2 separate regions of the Homo sapiens genome follow, and region 2 is linked to region 1. The links come from fine-mapping of genetic effects on gene expression. A gene starts in region 1. The other region holds a variant in brackets. All regions are shown on one strand. Distances are between the middles of the regions.

Region 1 (4,000 bases):
GAAACCATTACAGAGTTCGCACCTGGTGGGTAACTGTGGAATGTCACCTGGAGACAGGACAAAAATGTCCTGTTTATTAACCGAGGGGGGAGAGCTGGAAAGACAAGAAGTTGTGGAAGGAAGAAGGGACATTAAAGATGGGGCCTGACGGGAAACAGTGGTTCCCAGTGATGCCCAGACCCAGGGAGGGGCTTTGGAGCAGGTTCACTGGAGAAATGGGGGTAAATGAAGGTCCCCAAAACAAAGGACAAAGAATGTCAGAGCTGGCCGGGCGCCGTGGCTCACGCCTGTAATCCCAGCACTTTGGGAGGCCGAGGCGGGCGGATCACCTGAGGTCACGGGTTCGAGACCAGCCTGGCCAACATGGTGAAACCCCGTCTCTACTAAAAATACAAAAATTAGCCGGGCGTAGTGGTGGGTGCCTGTAATCCCAGCTACTCGGGAGGCTAAGGCAGGAGAATCGCTTGAACCCAGGAGGTAGAGGTTGCAGTGAGCAGGTTGCAGTGAGCAGAGATTGTGCCATTGCCCTCGAGCCTGGGGGACCAAGAGTGAGACTTTGTCTAAAAAAAAAAAAAAAAGAAAAGAAAAAAAAGAACGTCAGAGTTAGGGCCCTGGATGGCTCCTCTATATCTCAAACCCCCTGGGCAATGGCAGAAACTGCGGTAGGAAAAGTTCCTACAAGTGAGGAGAGCGGGGACAGTGGCTGGTGGTGACAGGAAGGAAACAGGCAAAGGCGGCAGTCGCCAGGGAAGACCTTGCGCCCCTTCAGCGACCCGCTCACCGCTCTTCCTGCTTCCGGATTCCTCCCCGCCAGTCCAGGCTGCAGCTGTAGGAAAGCCTGGGCCGGGGGCGCGCCCCCAGGCTGCGCAACAGCTACCACAGGACCAGGCACACACCCGGTCACCACCGCTGGGGCCCGCGCCACGTGGCTGCTAGTTTCCTTCCACTTCCCCCGCTTTGTAATGCCAGGCAAGACGCTTTATGTTGATTTCACACGCTCTTAAGGGGGTCCCAGGCCGCAGTCTGAAAACCCCTGCTCCTGAGCAAGTTGCGTTTCCCTAAAGACCAGGAAGCGGAGGTAGTTCCATCGTTTCTTTACACGGCAAGGAGCTTTCAGATTATTCCGAGGGCCTGGCTATGAGTCTAGGCAGGAGGCGGCCCAATCATGGGAGGCGCCAGAGACAAAGAGGAAGAGGACATGGACTAGGCAGGGAAGCCAGGTCGAAGGAACCCCAATGCCTCCAAGGTTCCCACAGCTGGCCTTGGCCAAAATATCCGAAAATTCCCATGTAGAAACTGGCTTTTCCAGCCTGGGCAACATGGTGAAACCCCGACTCTACAAATAAATACAAAAACTAGACAGGTGTGGTGTCCGCGCCTGTGGTCCTCTGCCCACGCTCGTCCCAGCTACTGGGAAAGCTGAGGCGGGAGGATCACCTGAGCCCGGGAGGGTCGAGGCTGCAGTGAGCCGAGATTCCGCCGCGGCACCCCAGCCTGGGCGACAAAGCGAGAGCCTGTCCAAAAAAAAAAAAAAGAAAAAAAAAAAAAAAAAAACCTTTTAGGGCAAGTTAATCACCAAAGTGTTAGATACTTAATTTGGAGACCGCAAATCGGTCGGCAAAACGATGGGCTTTTCAAAATCATGCCGGGTGTAGCTGGGTAAGCATGAATTTGTTCACCAAGTCCCCGATTCCCAAGCTAAGGGACCCTTAAGTATGAAGCACATGGCTTTCGGGGAACCCAAAAGTAGGGAGCGCTCCCGAGCCAGCGGTGGGTCTGGAGAATCCCCGAGCGCGCAGGCCGCGGGACAGCCTCCCCAGTGCGCAGCAGCCTGAGGCTAACAGCCCCCAGAGGGCAGAGCCCCGCGATCCCGGCGCCGCTTGCGGCTGGATTCTTTGGCAGCGGGCGCGGCGCCAGTCAGGACGACGGCTCCGGAAGTCTCCCGGGCGCGTGAGACCCGGGCCGCTCTCCGTCCACGCACGACCCTCCCTCCAGGCGCGCCTCCCACCCCGGCCCCGCGTTCCGCTCAGCCCGGGTGACCAACTACACCTCACTTCAAAGGCCCCCACGCCCGGGCGTGCCCTCCGCCCGCCCGCGGCAGGTGGGGGTGCAGGGCGGAGGGCGCGGGCGGCCCCAGAAGGCGCCCGGACCTTCCCGAGAATTCCGGGCCGCGCAGGCGCATTGAGGCCGGCGCGGGGGCGTGCGAGAGGCGCGCGGCGGCGATTGAGGGAAGGTTGCCCGGGCCGGGCCACGAGCAGGGCCTGCGCGCGCCCGCAGGAAGGCGCGGGGGCGGGGTGCCGCGGCAACGGCGCATGCGTAGGCGCGCGGCCGCGGCGGCGGCTGGGGAGGGTTCTTCCGGAAGGTTCGGGAGGCTTCTGGAAAAAGCGCCGCGCGCTGGGCGGGCCCGTCGCTATATAAGGCAGGCGCGGGGGTGGCGCGTCAGTTGCTTCAGCGTCCCGGTGTGGCTGTGCCGTTGGTCCTGTGCGGTCACTTAGCCAAGGTGACGGGTGGTTGTGGGGGCCTGTGGAGGTGGACTGGGGACCGGGACTGGGGGCGGCTGGCGCGGGGCGGAGGCTGTGGGGGCCGGACCAGATCCCTGAAGCAGCCAGGGCCGCGCTCCCGGGCGGCCGCGCTTTCTATTCCGGAGGCCTCGGGACCGCTGCGGTTTCCGCACCCCGCTTCAGGAATGGGCCGGGCGGCCGCGGGCTCCCCGAGGCTCTGCAGCAGCGCCAGAGCTGGCGCCGCACGCGAACAGAGCGGCCCCGCCGCGGGGGTCCCCCGCCCGGCCCCGCTGGGGGCGCAGGCGGAGGAGGCCGCCGTGGCGGAGCCGCAGCCCGCGCGGGAGGGCACCCGGGGTGTTCGTTGGGGACCGCGGCGGGGGACTGGGCCCGGGCCTGCGGCGGCCTCCCGGAAGCGCGCACACGCTCGTGGTAGTTGCCGCGCTCCGAAATGAGGTCATCCTTTGTCAGCCGCCCTTCTATTTTCGGTTTACTTAAACTTCGCAAATCTCCAATTCGGCTTTAAAAATATTTGGAGAACGCGATGGAATTTCGTGTTGCCTCTGTAGACGTCCTGCAAGGTTTTAAACCGGCGCGGTGTCGTTCCAGATGCCTGAGGAAACCCAGACCCAAGACCAACCGATGGAGGAGGAGGAGGTTGAGACGTTCGCCTTTCAGGCAGAAATTGCCCAGTTGATGTCATTGATCATCAATACTTTCTACTCGAACAAAGAGATCTTTCTGAGAGAGCTCATTTCAAATTCATCAGATGTAAGTCACTTATTAACCCAGAATCGGATTTTGGTTTCAGTGTGAACTTCTTGGGGGTGCTGTATGCTTAAATTAATATTTTTTGTTAACAGGCATTGGACAAAATCCGGTATGAAAGCTTGACAGATCCCAGTAAATTAGACTCTGGGAAAGAGCTGCATATTAACCTTATACCGAACAAACAAGATCGAACTCTCACTATTGTGGATACTGGAATTGGAATGACCAAGGCTGACTTGATCAATAACCTTGGTACTATCGCCAAGTCTGGGACCAAAGCGTTCATGGAAGCTTTGCAGGCTGGTGCAGATATCTCTATGATTGGCCAGTTCGGTGTTGGTTTTTATTCTGCTTATTTGGTTGCTGAGAAAGTAACTGTGATCACCAAACATAACGATGATGAGCAGTACGCTTGGGAGTCCTCAGCAGGGGGATCATTCACAGTGAGGACAGACACAGGTAGGCACCTGAACATTCACTGGTTAAGTGAGCGGTGGAAGGGTGGGGTGCTGCAACCCTTGGACCCCTGGGGATGCGGTGAAGCTTACAGAATTTGTGTTTGCCCAACGATCAGGAACAAGCTAGAGCACTTAATTAGTGTAATGGCATGACTTGGTGGGCGGTTCTTTTGGGCGAGGCACCTTGCCCAAAAGGTTCTGCTGTGGTGGCCTTTGCATCTGTAGTAACGGCAAACCTTGCTTTATAGACACGTTATAAGGGTGTTAGGCATG
Region 2 (4,517 bases), 41 kb before region 1:
AGGGAATGTCCAGAAGGCAGTTGAATAATCAAGTCTGGAAAGAGGTCTGAGCTGCCCATCTGTATTCTGCAGTTATCAGCAGATAGGTAGTATTTAAAGCCTGGATAGGCTGGGCATGGTGGCTTATGCCTGTAATCCCAATACCTTGGGAGGCTGAGGCAGGAGGATCACTTGAACCCAGAAGTTCAAGACCAGCCTGGGCAATATGGTGAGACCTTGTCTCTACAAAAAAAATTTAAAAATTAGCGTGGTGGTGTATTCTAGCAATCCTAGGAGGCTCAGGCAGGAGGATCACTTGAGCCCAGGAGGTTGAGGCTACAGTGAGCTGTGATTGCACCACTACACTCCAGCCTGGGCAACAGAGGGAGACCCTGTCTCAAAAAAACAAAAATTAACTCAGAATGAATTAAAGACCTAAATGTAAGAATTAAAACTATAAAACTGGAGCTATGATCACACCACTGCACACCAGCCTGAGCAACAGAGCAAGACCCTGTCAAAAAAAGAGAATGGACAAAGGATCTGAATAGACATTTCTGCAAAGTTACACAAATGGCCAGGGAGCACGTGAAAAGATTCACAACATTATTAGCCATCAGGGAAATGCAAATTAAAACCACAAGGAGATGTCACTTCATATACACTAGGATGGCTATAATCAAAAAGATAAACAATAACAAGTGTTGGTGAGAATGTGGAGAAATTTAAACCCCCATGTACTGCAGATAGGAAGGAAAAGTAATATAGCCAATATGGAAAATAGTCTGGCAGTTCCGTAAAAGTTTCAACAGTTACCATAGGACCCAGCAATTCCAATCGTATGTATATACCCAAGAGAAATCAAAACATATTCACACGGCCGGGCGCAGTGGCTCATGTCTGTAATCCCAGCGTTTTGGGAGGCCGAGGCAGGTGGATCATGAGGTCAGGAGTTCGAGACCAGCCTCACCAACGTGGTGAAATTGCGTCTGTACTAAAAATACAAAAATTAGCCAGGTGTGGTGGTGCGGGCCTGTAATCCCAGCTACTCAGGAGGCTGAGGCAGGAGAATCGCTTGAACCCAGGAGGCGGAGGTTGCAGTGAGCCGAGATCACACCATTGCACTTCAGCCTGGGCGACAGAGCGAGACTCCATCTCAAAACAAAACAAAACAAAAAAAAAATTTCACACAAAAACTTATACGTGAATGTTCACAGCGGCATTATTCAAAATAGCCAAAAAGTGGAAACAAACCAAATGCCCATCAACTAATGAATGGATAAACAAAATGTGGTATATCCATACAATGGAATATTAATCAGCTATGATAGAAAGGAATGTAGTTGTCGGGCGTGGTGGCTCACGCCTGTAATCCCAGCACTTTGGGAGGCCAAGGCAGGCAGATCACATGGTCAGGGGTTCGAGACCAGCCTAGCCAACACGGTGAAACCTCGTCTCTACTAAAAAAATACAAAAATTAGCTGGGAATGGTGGCGTGCACCTGTAATTCTAGCTACTCGAGAGGCTGAGGCAGGAGAATTGCTTGAACCCGGGAGGCGGAGGCTGCAGTGAGCTGAGATCAAGCCACTGCACTTTAGGCTGGGCGACACAGCAAGACTCCAACTCAAAAAAAAAAAAAAAAGGAATGTAGTATAGAGACAGAAAGTAGATTTGTGGTAGCCTAGGGATGGGGAAATGACAGGGAAGGAGTCGTGACTGCTAATGAGCCCAGGGTTTCTTTTAGAGGTGATAATTGCACAGTTCTGAATATACCAGAAACCACTGAATAATAGTCGTTGGGTGAATTATATGTGCAGTTAAAAAAAATCAAACCTAGCCAGGTGGGCGTGGTGGCACA[T/C]GCCTGTAGTAATCCCCTGTAGTAATCTCGGGAGGCTGACAGGAGAATTGCTTGAACCCTGGAGGCAGAGGTTGCAGTGAGCTGAGATTGCCCCACTGCATTCCAGCCTGGGCGACAGAGTGAGACTCCGTCTCAAAAAAAAAAAAAAAAAAAAATCAAAACTAGAGCCACTCTATCTATAGTGCTCAATTTATTTTTCAAACAGCTGCTAAATTATCCAGGCATAACTACTTATTAGGTTGTTTGAACTGTACCTGGTAAATGGAACTGTTAGATTTTTCTATTGGTCCAGGGAGCGCCATAAAGAAATTCTGAAACACTAAGGGCTCTGAGAACCAAGAAAACTTGGGAATCACCGTAAGGCATAAACCTTTCTCATTTCTTACCTTCCAACTTATACCTCCCTTCTTATCTCTATCTGAACCCATTCTTATTCTTCTAGGTTAAAAGAAGAAGTACCTCTTCTCTTCTTTTCTTTCTTTTTTCTTAAGATGGAGTGTCGCTATATGGCTCACGCTGGAATGCAGTGGCATGATCTCAGCTCCCTGTAACCTCCGCCTCCTGGGTTCAAGCAATTCACTGTCTCAGCTTCCTGAGTAGCTGGTACTACAGGCATGCACCATCACACCCGGCTAATTTTTTTTTTTTTTTTTTTTTTCCGAGACGGAGTTTTGCTCTTACTGCCCAGGCTAGAGTGCAATGGTGCGATCTTGGCTTACTGCAACCTCTGCCTCCTGGGTTCAAGCAATCTCCTGCCTCAGCCTCCCGAGTAGCTGGGATTACAGGCGCCCGCCACCATGCCCAGCTAATTTTTTGTGTTTTCAGTAGAGATGGGGTTTCATCATGTTGGCCAGGCTGGTCTCGAACCCCTGACCTCAGGTGATCCACCCACCTCGGCCTCCCAAAGTTCTGGGATTACAGGCGTGAGCCACTGCGCCCATCCTAATTTTTGTATTTTGGGTAGAGACGGGGTTTCACCATGTTGGTCAGGCTGGTCTTGAATTGCTGACCTCAAGTGATCCACCCACCTCGGCCTCCCAAAGTGCTGGCATTACAAGTGTGAGCCACCGTGCCCAGCCACCTCTTCTTTTCAAGATCAATTTCTCCACCATGTTCTTGTAACAAATTCCTGGTCTCCTCTAGGACACCCTGCTCCAGCAGCAAGTTACTGTTTCTCCTGGGCAGACTCCCACACTGCACTGCCTCCTCCCATGTAGTATGAGCCTGCTGAGCAAAGAAGAGAGCAGCACAGAAGAACCAATGTTCATTTCTGCTTGAGAGTTTGGCAGTGTGTTGGTAATTGTTAATAGAATTGCTTCTTTCTCCAATTAAAAACAAAACATGGCTGGTGTGGTGGCTCACACCTATAATCCCAGCACTTTGGGAGGCCGAGGCAAGAGGATAGCTAGAGCCCAAGAGGTCACAACCAACCTGGCAACATAGCAAGGCCCTGTCTCTATAAAAATAAGGTTAGCCAGGCGTGGCAACACACACTTGTAGTCCCAGCTACTCGGGAGGCTGAGTTGGGAGGATCGCTTGAGCCCAGAAAGTTGAGGCTGCAGTGAGCTGTGTTCATAACACTGCATTCCAGCCTGGGCCACAGAACAAGACCTTGACTCAAAAAATGTATGTGTATATATATAATAAAACAAAACACCTCTGCCTATTGCTTACTGTCTCCAGTCCCAGCCTTGAAAGAGTCACAGCTGTCTCCTACCCCCTCAAATAAATATAACTCCATGTGTGCTATTTTAATTATCTTAGACTCTAGGGATAAGACTGAAATGTGGGTTCCAAACCATAGTAATAAAGGGAAAATACAGGAAGAAAATAAGAGAACTGTCATAAGGCTGGGACATTCTGCCTCAGTCACAGAACTAATTGAATTATTACAGTATGTTAGAACTGAATTCAAATTAGGACATCACTTTTTGTAGATAGAACTCATGCTAGCTTTGTTTTTCATTGTTAAGCTCCTCCAGTAAGAAGTAAAACAACAGCTTATCCAAGCAGCTTAATGAGCATTGTGGGTTTTATCTTTGCAAAGATTAGAGCAAGGACGTTCAAGCTTAATAGCCTCAATAACAGTTCCTAACTTTTTTCTATCTGAGATCCTGAAACAGGAAAGATGAGATTTTTTAAAGAGCTAGTATGCTATATGTAAAGAAAAAATTAACTTGTTACTTATATATAATTATAAGTACTTATTGGGAGGAGGCTATGAAGAGGTGATTTAAAAAAAAAAAAAAAGTACTTCTCACTCTCTGAAGAGCCTCATCAGCATTATTGGCCTTTTGAGAAGCAGCCAGTAAAACAGTGATTTTTAGCCATAGATTGCTGTAAAGTAGTAGCTGGGGCCTGTGGCAGGAAGTAAGATTCATTTGTTAATTTAAAAATTCATTTTAGGAGTTACTGATTGGGAAAACAAAAACACAGTTTATGATATTAAAAGAATCTAGTCGGCCGGGCGCAGTGGCTCACGCCTGTAGTCCCAGGACTTTGGGAGGCCTAGGCGGGCAGATCACGAGGTCAGGAGATCGAGACCATTCTGGCTAACACCGTGAAACCCCATCTCTACTAAAAGTACAAAAACAAAGTTAGCCGGGCGTGGTGGCGGGCGCCTGTAGTCTCAGCTACTCTTGAGGCTGAGGCAAGAGAATGGCGTGAACCCGGGAGGCGG

Direction of the effects. Positions count from the first base shown, and alleles are read on the strand shown. Sizes are in standard deviations (SD) of each study's normalised expression.
For the expression in fibroblasts of the gene that starts at base 2,442 in region 1, C is the high allele of the variant in region 2 and T is the other (small effect, 0.10 SD a copy in GTEx).

The links. PIP is the estimated chance that this variant, and not a neighbour inherited with it, causes the effect. A credible set is the group of variants that fine-mapping cannot tell apart.
Region 2: its variant is the best candidate, but not a certain one, in a credible set for the expression of HSP90AA1 in fibroblasts (GTEx, PIP 0.54).

What each region holds. Positions count from the first base shown.
Region 1 is chr14:102,085,486-102,089,485 of GRCh38, reverse strand. HSP90AA1 (heat shock protein 90 alpha family class A member 1) reads left to right here and starts at 2,442. Exons shown (of 11, transcript NM_005348.4): 1 at 2,442-2,500; 2 at 3,108-3,269; 3 at 3,362-3,728. The coding sequence starts at 3,108. RefSeq lists silencers at 1,885-1,934, 1,995-2,524, 2,565-2,854.
Region 2 is chr14:102,126,609-102,131,125 of GRCh38, reverse strand. It overlaps a transcript of HSP90AA1 not described here. Among named protein-coding and RNA genes, the nearest start is that of WDR20, 11 kb to the left of the region's middle. The variant T/C (reference allele first, on the strand shown) is at 1,838.